Linked DNA regions of Homo sapiens. The protein of the gene in region 3 purifies or fractionates together with the protein of the main gene of each other region. This does not show direct contact. Each region holds a gene or a part of one and is shown on either strand. Other genes may lie near its edges.

What was found. The genes of interacting proteins can lie anywhere in the genome.
Region 1: the proteins of MAP4K5 (region 3) and PTER purify together in Homo sapiens (affinity purification with mass spectrometry, with the first as the bait; one large-scale study listed by BioGRID). This does not show direct contact.
Region 2: the proteins of MAP4K5 (region 3) and RTL1 purify together in Homo sapiens (affinity purification with mass spectrometry, with the first as the bait; one large-scale study listed by BioGRID). This does not show direct contact.

The regions. Positions count from the first base shown.
Region 1 is NC_000010.11:16,506,370-16,510,009, forward strand, and holds part of PTER (N-acetyltaurine hydrolase), read left to right. Parts: intron 1-3,640. UniProt on the Homo sapiens protein: N-acetyltaurine hydrolase that regulates feeding by catalyzing the hydrolysis of N-acetyltaurine into taurine and acetate. N-acetyltaurine has anorexigenic and anti-obesity effects that are dependent on GFRAL receptor and GDF15.
Region 2 is NC_000014.9:100,900,923-100,905,347, reverse strand, and holds the start of RTL1 (retrotransposon-like protein 1), read left to right. Parts: upstream 1-1,625; 5' UTR 1,626-1,743; intron 1,744-1,961; 5' UTR 1,962-2,057; intron 2,058-4,425. UniProt on the Homo sapiens protein: Plays an essential role in capillaries endothelial cells for the maintenance of feto-maternal interface and for development of the placenta.
Region 3 is NC_000014.9:50,522,527-50,526,166, forward strand, and holds part of MAP4K5 (mitogen-activated protein kinase kinase kinase kinase 5), read right to left. Parts: intron 1-3,640. UniProt on the Homo sapiens protein: May play a role in the response to environmental stress. Appears to act upstream of the JUN N-terminal pathway.

The DNA.
Region 1 (3,640 bases), on a different chromosome or scaffold from region 3:
GACTTAAGAGCAAAAGCAGAGACAGAGCCAGAGAGAATGAGTCCAGGGAAGTGGTGCCCATTCCACAGGGTTACTATAGAATTGACATGAAATAATGTTTTCCAAGTTTTTGTCTGAGTGTCTGGTGCAGAATATGGAAGTGTTCAATAGATGTTGACTTTAAAAACTCTGGATAGATAAGAAATATAGAGCAAGGTTCCTAAGGCAACAAATAGATGGAATCTGGGGAACAAATAGAAAGTCGGTTGAAAGGATGCTTTCTCCATGGAAATGAGAGGGCATGACACAGCGATGGGGTGAATGCAAACAGAAGTCTTAGTGAGGGAAACAGGAGACTGAGGACACATGGCCACATGTCCTCTAGTGTCTCTGTGAGGTGGACATGGTTATCTCCTGAGAAAAAAAGAGTGGATTTAGGGCAGCACTGTGTAGAGCAGGAGAAAGGCTAGGAATGGCTGTCAGGTCAATGAGAGAGATCTTGACATGGATGTGTTATGTGCGAGACCTAGTTGAGTCTAGAAATCATGATTGCATGCCTGTGTATTGGCACCAATGCACACGATTTGGTGATTATTTTCCAAAGCAAAACTGTTTTGCGTTTTGGTAGTGGAACCAGAGAAGTTGTGTGCGTACAAGCAGAAAATGGGAACAGTTCAAGAGATTGAGGGTTGGGATTCTATCTGAAAGAGATGGATAACAATGGAGGAGTTGAGATGAGGGTCATGGGATCCAAGTTGGAGGGAAGAAAGCATAGAGAGGAATGGTCAGATAGACAGGAAAAGCATAGCAGGGCAAATAAGTGGACTGCAGGCTTTAATGAAGTGGGTGGAGCATATATATATATATATATATGTTCAAATATATATACTGTATGTGTATGTGTATATATATATGTGTGTGTGTATATATATACACAGTAGAAGAAGTGAGTGGAAAAAGTAGAAAAATGTAACATGATCGGAGTGGGAAACTGAAGATGGAGATTTCAGAGGGGGAGCAGTAGTTCCCTATGATAACAAGAACTAGAATATAATTATGAGAACAGAAAAGTGGTTGCCGTGGAAGTAGCAAAGCTGGAATTGAGAAGTGATGTCCAGGAACCATGAGATTCAAGTATTGCTAGTTGAATAAGGCACACTGGGTTGAGGGGAAGATCTTGAGCCAGTGGTCATAGTTGGGACATCCTGAGGATCTTTCCCTGGGAAGTCACATTTACGTCTGTATGCCTTCTGCTGTCTCCAAGTACTGGCATTCTGCCTTGATCACCTCATTAATAGTACTATGCTTCAAGTTTAGTATCATTAGGGAAAGCTAGTTAATCAGTGTTGCATTAGTTAAGTAAGATGGCAACTCTCAACTCTACATGAGCAAATGACTTCACCTGTCTTGACCAATGAAGTTCTGTCTTTTAATACTCAGATCAGTTATTTGACAAGTAGATGTATTGTTTCTTTGTTTATTTTTGTTTTATTATTTTAATTTACTTGCCCAGGAACCCGATTCAATACAGGTGAACCTGTTCCCCTAAAGCCCTAGTAGTTAGTTTATACTCAGAGGAGACTATTCCTTGCCTAAGGGCATCTGGAATTTAAAATAGTGCAGTGCATTCAGTCATTCTCATCTTTCACAATCTCAAAAACATGATTTCCTGATCAATGCCCTCAACATATGTTTTATTTCTTTTTTCTTTTTTTCTTTTTCTTTTTTTTTTTTTTTTGAGATGGAGACTTGCTCTGTCGCCCAGGCAGGAGCGCAGTGGCGCAATCTCACCTCACTGCAAGCTCTGCCTCCCAGGTTCACGCCATTCTCCTACCTCAGCCTCCCGAGTAGCTGGGACTACAGGCACCCGCCACCACGCCCGGCTAATTTTTTGTATTTTTAGTAGAGACGGGGTTTCACCGTGTTAGCCAGGATGGTCTTGATCTCCTGACCTCGTGATCCGCCCGCCTCGGCCTCCTAAAGTGCTGGGATTACATGTGTGAGCCACCGCGCCCGGCCTCAACACATGTTTTCTAAATCATCTTGGAAATGGGAACTTTGCACTCTGGATCGGCTTCCTTTTCCGAAGCCCCTTTGTGGTAGTGAGGTGCATCTTTTGCACACCTGTGTCTCGCATGAGGCTCCCAGACCTTCTAGAACAAGAGAAAGAAGATCCGTAAAGGGGCATCTGTGAAGGAGATAGAAGGGTCAGATGACCGATGGCTCCCCCAGCATTCCTTCTTAGCTCCTTTTAGCCATTTGTTTACCCTTTACTGTGCTAAATATAGCTATTCTGGATGTATGGAAATAATAAAAATTATTATAATATAAATCTGTGTATATATATATAAAATACCTGTGTGCTATTCCATACGTACGTGTATGTGTGTGTGCTTAATCTTCCTTAAATTAAACCATGCATTCTCGCTTGACCCAAGGACAGCCCATGTTAAGCACTGAATGCCCTTTTGGGTTGCGTGTGCTCCAGTACCCACTGTCTTGCACACTTGATTTTCATCATGCATGAAAGGACCACAGGGTCCTTTTCTGAGCCATCGTAGTCTTAAACCTTGAAGTGCATGAACACAGAAGCACGCTTCTGCCTACCTCTGGTGTTCAGCACCAGAAATTCTGTGTCTAACACCTGTTTTCAATCTTCTGCTCCATTTCTCAAATCTTATTATATCTCTGCCTTTTCACACTTTGTAGTCTCTCTCTAATATTTGTTTGCAAACACTAACTCATTTGTATTTCTATAATTACCGTGATTTTTTGTCTTCTCGTCTGTAGTGGCTCCCCCTTTTCTGGCAGCATCTCTGTAACTCCTGTTCTTCCATATAATGGCACAACAGGAGAGATGATCTTTTAGTGTAAGCAGGACGGGGCAGGTTTTCTTCATAGTCAGGATATGATTGTGTGTCCAGAGCCATAACGTTATCTTTCTCATAAGTAGTCTCCAGATTCTTGACTTAATGGGTTCTAAGGATTCCCGGTTTTAAGTATGAGTATCTTGTCCTCTATACTCTTTCATTCTACTTCATGATTTGATAACATTGTGTTTCAAGGTCTGACAAAGGACATCTTAAAGGAATTTGTTTATCCACATGATCTGCCTTTATAGTGTGAGAAATTATATTTATCAGATAAGAAACATAGGCAAAAATTTTGGAAAATGCCCAGAAAATATCAGGGAGAAAGTGTTTCCTAAAACCTCCTATACCGTGATACTTCTTTGCAGTTGTGGATCAAGGTTTGTCACCCTAAGCTTCAGTATTGTGTGTGCATTCTGTCAAATCTTTGTCTTTTTATGTGATAATATAACTTATCTTAGATAATTCCCCTAAACTGAGTGTGTTCCAAAAGTAACTGCAGATCAGAACTTCAGGATAGTATACAAATTTCAATGAGGCAAAAAATCATAGTGGCACAAAAGTCATTACATGCACTTATAGGACAGGCATGGTTCTTCTCTGCTAGTGCTTGCATTCCTTTGACCTGCAGATACAAAGTCTATTCTTCCATTATAATTTATTTTAAAATATGTGTTCTCAGAGGGCAGGGCTTTGTGCTTGAGTTTTTTTTGTGTGTGTAGTACCCCACGTTTTGCTCACTGTAGTAGTTATTAAATATGACTCATGTACTAGGACACCAAGAAATGCTT
Region 2 (4,425 bases), about 50 Mb from region 3:
AAAAGGGCCTGAGGGTACCACTCTTCAAGGCAGAGCGGCCACCTGATGAGCCCTTCCCTGGGACTCTGGTCCCAATTTGGTTACTGGGACAACGCTGTCTCCCATTAGACACGCTTTGAAGGAAGACCCTGGAGTGACCGGCTCAGTCATGCTGGGAAGGATTCAGCTGTCTAGCTTTCAAATGCCTTTTTTTTTTTTTTTGGCTTTTTTATTTCTTTTGGAAAGATAAGAGTTGATGCTTTTACCCTAAAACTGTGTGCCAAGCCGCTCTGGCTATCCTCAGCCCCACTCTTCCCCTATCTCTGTAGCCCTCCTTTCCGTCCTTCATAGGCTGCAAGCTGACTGGCGCCCGACCCCAGGTCCACACCCACCTCCCTCTACCCCCTGGTCCATGCACCACTCCCGGCCTCCTCCCCCACTCTTCTCTTTCTGGCCCCGCTGCAGAGTCTCGGGCCCCTCGGCTTCCTGGGCGCCTGGCCACCACGCAGCGCCTGGAAGTGCTCCCTCCCTCATCTCTCGTTCCCCACTTTGGAAAGCCGGCCACCGGACAGGACAGCTCCCGGGACAGCTCCCGCAGCCTGCTGCATTGCAGCGCAGCCGTCTGTGAGGGAGGGGCGCAACCTGCAGCCCCCGCCCCCCGCCCCGACCACCCCCGCCCAGCAGCCCCCAGCCCCGGCACGGCCGGCTCCCCCGCCGCACCGCACGCATCTGTCGCAGTTAAAAGCGCCGCTGCCAGAGCAAAAGCGCCGGTCCCTCTTGACTGTCCCCCTCCTCACTTTTCGGGCTCAGAAATGTGGCCCAGGCAGCCCCCTTGTGGCACGTGGGGGCGCCACAGACTCTTGGCTGGTGTCTGAAGAATTCAGACTGTCTGATTCCACCGCACCGTGAGTTGGCACAAATCTTCGGTGGCCCAACTCCTACCCGATGCAGAACTCTGCTCAGCGGCCTCTCTGAGTGGGGGGCACCTCTCCCCTCCCCTCTCCCCGTCCACACCTCTCCCTTCTCCCTCCAGGGAGGAAGCGAAGGAACTCTCCTGTTGAATATTGCTCTGACAAGCAGACAGGTGTCTGGCAAACGTGATTGGGGTGGTGGGGGAAGGGGGGGGCCAGGAGGGTGGTGGGAATGGGGGCTTTTCTCGAAATGACGTTTGGTTTCCATCTCTTATCTCACAGATGGGAAACCGAGGTGCGGGGAGGGCCATAGTCCCTGTCTGTGTCAGAGTCAAGGCTGGAGATCCTCCTCCAAGTCCAGCCTGGGGCATTTCCCTGAGGTGCCGGGGCACCCTTAAGACGTACCCCTCTTCCCCCTCCCACTTGTCCAGCCCCTCCAGATCTGGTTCTCCCCGTCCGGAAGCCCTGGAGGGCCCCTGGATGTTCTCTGTCCTCTCTAACTCACTGTCCACACAAACAAGCCCAGCCCCCTCCGTCTCTATCTGCAATCTACTTGCAGACAGGCAGGGCCCTCTCCACATCAGGTTAATAATGCCATTTTCATAAGCCTCTGCCCATAGGTGCTACCACCTAATTTTGAATCTGCCCTTCAAACGGATTGGGCCACAGAGGAGCTGGGATCTCAAGCACCGCTGGGAGGTGCTTATAACTAATCAATCCGTCCCCTGCCCACCCACACCCCCCCAGCACTCGGCACAGCCTCGCTGAGCAGCCTTCAGCAGCAGGGTGTGGTGGGGAGCCTCGGAGAGTCTGGGGTTCCATCCTGGCCCAGCCTCACACCAGCTGAGAGACGGTGAGTATAGGACTTTGCCTTTCTGTGCCTCAGTTTCCTCATCAATCTAATGGGGCTCATGAGACCAGTGTGCAGGGTTATTGCCCGGGTGAGTTCTTTGCAGACAGCCCAGTTCGGGACTTGGCTCCAAGACGGGGCTCCATAAATCTCCATGCCTGCACCCCCTCTTGATCACCTCAATTTCCAGTGTCTTATTCCCTGTTTGTTTCCCCCACCAGACCGACTGAGCTTCGAGGACAGGAAGCCACCGGCATCACTAAGCCACCGGCATCACTTCATCCCCAGCCTCACGCTTGGGACTGGGCCCGGGGAAGGTAGGTACACTGTGGTGGCTTGGAGAATGAGTGCATGGATGGATGTCTGTCCCATAGTCTATGGGATGCCCGGACCCCGCTGAGTTTCTCCTCCCCAGACCCCTGTCTAAGCTGGCCCTTCAAGGAAGCCGCCGGGAAAAACTGTTCCTTTATGCCTTCATGCTTTACCCCTCGTGCTGTTATATACAATGCAAATTCTCGGTCTATTAAATGCAGATGTGGGCTCTGCATGTCATTTATGCTGCCTGCTGCATCTACTGTGAGTTCCACAGGCCGGGGGCTGCCTCCGGCTGACTTGATTTGTGCGATTAAGCCAGCAGAGGGGACTCTGCCAGGAGAGGTTCCCGTTTGTATTGGGAGCAGGGTCTTGAAAGGCCAGGCTGTTTTCTCTCTTGCGACACTTGTTACATACCTCTCTCTCCCTCCCTGGGTCCCACCGTCTACTCCACAAGCATTTATGAAGTGTCTGATGTGTGCAAGCCTACACTTATCTCATTTAGTCCTCACTTCACGCCAGTGACGGAGAAACTCTCATCTCCATTTCACAGGGGAAAAGCCGAGTCTGAAAAGTAAAGGGAATTGTCTTGCAGCTAGAGAGCAGGGAGTCAAGCCGGTCTGCCTGGCTCGGGAGCCCCCAGCCCTGCTGTGGCTGCCTACTGCTGCTGCTGCTGCTGCTGCTGCTACTGCAGGGCTGACCAGGGCTGGCCGGGAGGCCAGCAGCTCCTGCAGAAAAGGCAGGGGGCTGCATACAGAGCGTTCTCCCTAGCAACTGGAAAAGGGGCCATAGAAAACCCAAGAGGGCTGAGAAGCCGCTCAACAGATAGACATGGAGCAGCTGGCCCCAGGAGGGGAGCACCACGCCCTCCCCTGGGCTTTTAGCAGAACAGCAGGGCAAAGGGCTCTGTCCCAGGTCTAAAAGAACAGAGACAGAGGTGTTAGGACAGGTGTAGAGGCGCCCAATCCTGTTCCCACCATTGGTGGGGGTATTGCCATTCAGCACAGAAAGGAGAGGACTGAAAAGAGAGGGAGCCCACAGCCTGCAGAGATCGGAGGGCAGAGGGGGCAAGGGGGCTGCTGCACAGCCGAGGAGGCAGATGCAAAAGGCAGGGGAGGGCTCAGCAAAGCAGCTCTGCGTGCGAGCCCTGAGCAGGCTGCCTGGGGAGAGAGGGAGCTCCCTGTTACAGGAGGCATCCGAGGGGAGAGAGGCAGGCCAGTGCTTGGCTGAGAAGGCTGCAGCACGGTTTCCTGCCCAGGCTGGCAGCCCACATGTTTAGGCCTTTGAGAAGCTCCCACAGCACCAACTCCTGAGCAGGCAAGCGGGCAAGTGAGCGAGGTGGCCAGAGGGGACCAGGCAGGGGTCAGTATGAGGCCATTTGGCCTCTCCCGAGTAGCTTGCCCTGGGCTAAATGGCAAAGGCACAGAGATGGTTGGCGGGGTGCCTCTGTCCCAATAAGGCAATGAGGGAGAGGAGCAGAGAATGGGGTTGAGTGCCCAGGGCTGGTGGGGGGAGGTGGGGACTGTCCTGCTGCCAACTCCCCTCTTGAGGGCCAGAACACCTAGAGTGGCCAAGCACCTGCCCTGGCTCCTGAGCCCACAGAGGCTGGCCTGTGTCCTCTCTGGGGCAACAGGCTGGCAGAGTGAGTGGAAGGAGCGAGGAGGTCTGGCAGGTTGAGGGGCCCTTTTCTGGAGGCTGAGCAGCAACCACAGATGCAGCCAGCTGCCAGACTGTGACTTACATGTTCAGTGGACTCATGAAAGCTCCTCACACAGTGACAGGGCTGGGGTGCCGGCCTGCTGATGAATGCAGCCCACACGGGAGTCGGGAGCTGCCTCTCCTGGCCCATTCACAGGGGTTCAGTTCCCAGGAACTGTGGGACCTTTATCAGGGGACCTCTGCTAGACAAGGCTCTGTTCTGCAGTTTCCAAAGGAGTTTTCTGCCTTATGCTCCCAGTGCAGGCACTCAGCATGTGTGTGTGCGCGCATGTCTGTGCGTGTGCGTGTGTGCATATGGGGGATGGCTGCGAGGCCAGCCAGGGCTCCTTGTCTGTGAAATGCCCAAGGTCCTCGGGGGCAGAGATGCACCTCCATGGAGCAGAAAAATTTCAAGGAGGGCAGAGTCATTCAAGGATGGAGCCCATCCTCACTGCAGCCTCATTGTCCTGCTCCTGACAACCCAATCTGTCAGCCCTGGGGTCGCCACAGCTGCTCCGACCCGCCGTGGGGGGGCAGCATCGTGTTGCAGGTGGAGTGCGCAGGCTGGTTTGCCTTCCTGGCTAACAGACAGACAGACGGCCCTGGCAGCTCAGTTAGGCACTGCAAGCCCTTCGGGAAAAACTGTTTGTTTCTCGGGAGCCTCTGTTTTTGTTG
Region 3 (3,640 bases):
ACATCATCCCAATAAAACATGTTTTATTTTCGCAGTGACCTTATACAACATTTAACATAACATTTATTTAATAAGAAATATAATTTAAAGTTTTTGAAGGACAATCCTTCCTCTCTTATTTTCTACTGTTAAGCTATTTTTCCAAGTTATTCACTCTCTCACTCAAATATGAAAACCAAGAGTCTCTCATAATGTCAGACACAGGACACAAAAAGGACAGTATATTCATATAGTTCAGCTGTGTTACTATCAAAAAATAAGAAAGTAGGTGATGTTTTGATATCAAATGTCAGAGAAATAACATCACATACATCTATTTTTTATTACCTTCAGATTTTTAGGCATTGGACTAGACTCTTAATATTTAAAGATCAAAGTATACTGGTGGAGAGAAGACATAAGAAACAGCTACATTTTCTTTGCTTACAAATTCATGCTTAAAAAAATAACATAAGACTTGGTAACCTACAACCAACTGCTGAACTTAATTAAAAATCACAATGGGCTGGGCGCAGTGGCTCACACCTGTAATCCCAGCACTTTGGGAGGCTGAGGCGGGTGGATCACCTGAGGTCGGGAGTTCGAGACCAGCCTGACCAACATGGAGACATCCCATCTCTACTAAAAATACAAAATTAGCCGGGCGTGGTGGCCCATGCCTGTAATCCCAGCTACTAGGGAGGCTGAGGCAGGAGAATCGCTTGAACCTGGGAGGTGGAGGTTGCGGTGAGCTGAGATCACACCATTGCACTCCAGCCTGGGCAACAAGAGCGAAACTCTGTCTCAAAAAAAAAAATCATAAATAAATAAAAATCACAATGACCTGTGGTCCTGCACCAGTCAATAAGGCATGGTGATGGCCATGCTTGTGTCTTAGATAATATGCCTGCCCCTAAGCTTAGAATTCAGCTACAGACACAGGTTCCGGTGACTCAATAAGAAAGAGATTTAAGACTTCCTTTGATTACCCAGTTATCCACTTGGTTAACTCCCTAATGCCCTTCAAGTCTGTTCAAATCTAACCTTTTCAATGAGGCCTACCCTGACCATCCTTATATAATTCCCCAACCTGCCTTCTTCACTCCATTCAGGCATTCCTGATCCTCCTTAACCATTCAACCTTTTCTTCTTTCTATACCTTTAATCTCCTTGTAACGTATTATACAATGTGTTTATTATGTTTGTTGTCTCTCTCCCCCCACTAAAATTTGAGTTCCATGAGGGGAGGAATCTTTGTCCGCTTTGTTCACTAGATGTATCACAAGGCACCACAACAGTGTCTGCCCCATAGGAGGCCTTCTATAAGTATTTGTTGAATGTTAAATACTCCTTTGCATCCTGTCCTCCCAGTTCTCCATCCCAGCTCCCATTCATTAACATGCCTCACTCTAACCATGCTCGCAGTGGAACAACTAGGACTGGAAATAAACAAACAAGGCTCCAGATCAGAAAGGGAGGGAGGTTTTTACATTTATCCCCTACTCTAGTCCCTAAAAATCCATCCTATGTTTTTTCCTTTTATCTGCTTTCTGAATTCTCAATTCCTCCCAAATTCTTTGTCTTGATTTCCTTCTCTGTAGAATTCCATCTCTAAACTCAGCAATCGTCTTAGACACTTGGGTGATACGACAAACTTAAAGAATGGTAACTGAATGCTGTAATCACTCAGTCTTGATGAAAGTAAAACCCTGAAACAAGAAGAAACATTTGTGTGCCTCATTTCTCTTTCCTGTCATAGCTAAGCTGCTTCAGAGAGCAGGCTACATTCCCTCTACTTCCTCACTTACCAATCATACCTCAACTCTACTCTTAATGAACCCTTCCAACTCCTTGCTTACATGACCACTATGCTGCTTACTCCTTCAAGGCATATTTATTGACCACATACTATATACTAGGCAATATACTAGTACAGGTGTTTCAACAGTAAACATAAGATCTCTGTTCTCATGCAGTTTTAGTCTACCAGGAAGACAAGCAAAAATGAGAAGTGATAAATGATGAGTATCATGATAAAAAATGTACATGGAGCTTTGAAAACATACAGCTGCTAGGTGTGACCTACTCTAAGGGACAGAAAAGCCCCCCCACCGAGAAATGTAATGTTTAAACAGAAACCCAAAGAGTAGGCGATAAGATGGAAGAGAAAGAGTGTTCTAAAGGAATACCTGCAAAAATCTGAAAGACAGAGAGTAGAGTGCATATAAAGAACTGAAAGTTCAGTATGGATACGGTATTGGGATAAGCAGGGCCTTAACAGGAATATTATTCTAAGACTTTATTCTACAGACAAAGGAAATAAAGGAGAAATGACACAAAACTTCAGATTTATATTTTTTGGAGAATGAATTCATCTTCCTCATTGCAGTTAGAGCAAACAGGAACAAGAATGGAGGCAGCTGATGATAGAGATCATCTCTTGAAACTTTTCGTTCCTATGAAAAGAACTTCCTCATACCGCTTTGTTTCTTCTCAGACACCTTCAATATATTATTTTTCTCTGCCACCCCTCTAAGGCTACAGCCTTTCCTCAGCTCTCCTACAAACTCTCCTGGGTGACCTCACCTATATTTCACAGGTACCACCCCATAAAGTGATGATGACTCCCAAACCTGTATCCCCAGTCCAGAACTCTCAAGGCCAGAGGTGCATTTCCTACCACCTACCAGACACATTCACCTATGCAATGCCTTATGTTCAAAACCAAACACAAAATCCAGACTCCACATATTTGGTATTTCCTAACTCTGTTGATAGCATCAATGTAGTCACTCAAGCCAGAAATTCTAAATGCCATCAATTACCCTTCTCCTCCTGCCCCTCACCGATTACCAGGTGTTTTTGATCATCTTCTAAATATGACTCAAATCCATCCCTTCCTTTCATCTTCTATACCAGGGCCTAAATTTAGTCTTGCATAAACTCTCATCCGGATTATTCGGGAACTGGTCTCTACATTTCTAGCCACTTTGTAAAATCCTTACACTACACTGTAAGATATTTCCTCCTAAAAAGTGTTTCTCTAGTCCGGGCACAGTGTACTCACACCCTAAAATCCCAGCACTTTGGGAGGCAGAGGTGGATGGATTGCTTGAGCCTCCGAGTTCAAGACCAGCCTGGGCAACATGGCGAAACCCCACCTTTACAAAAAAATAAAATAAAATACAGAAATTAACTGGGCATGGCAGTGTGTGCCAGTCCCAGCTACTCAGGAGGCTGAAGTGGGAGGATCACTTGAGCCTGGGAGGCGGAGGGTCTAGTGAGCTGAGATCATGCCACTACACTGCAGCCTAAGTGAAAAAGTAAGACCCTGTCTCAAAAAAATAAAAATAAATAATTGAAAAGGTCCAAATTCTTTGATATGACACATGGAGTCCATTAGCTGGTGTTTCCTGCCAGAAAATAGCCTCTATTCTCCATCTATAAAATAATAAAAATAAATAATTGAAATGACATCTCTGCCAGATGTCACACTGAACCTGGAATGAATACAGATGCAGATCTCTCAAAACTCATCACGGCTTCTCAAGCCTCCAGGTGTTTGCACATACTATACCCAAAGCCTGGAATATCTTTTCCTATCTTCTCTACCTAGAAACCACTGGTCTTCTTTTAAAAATCCAGTTAATGTTCCTTCCTC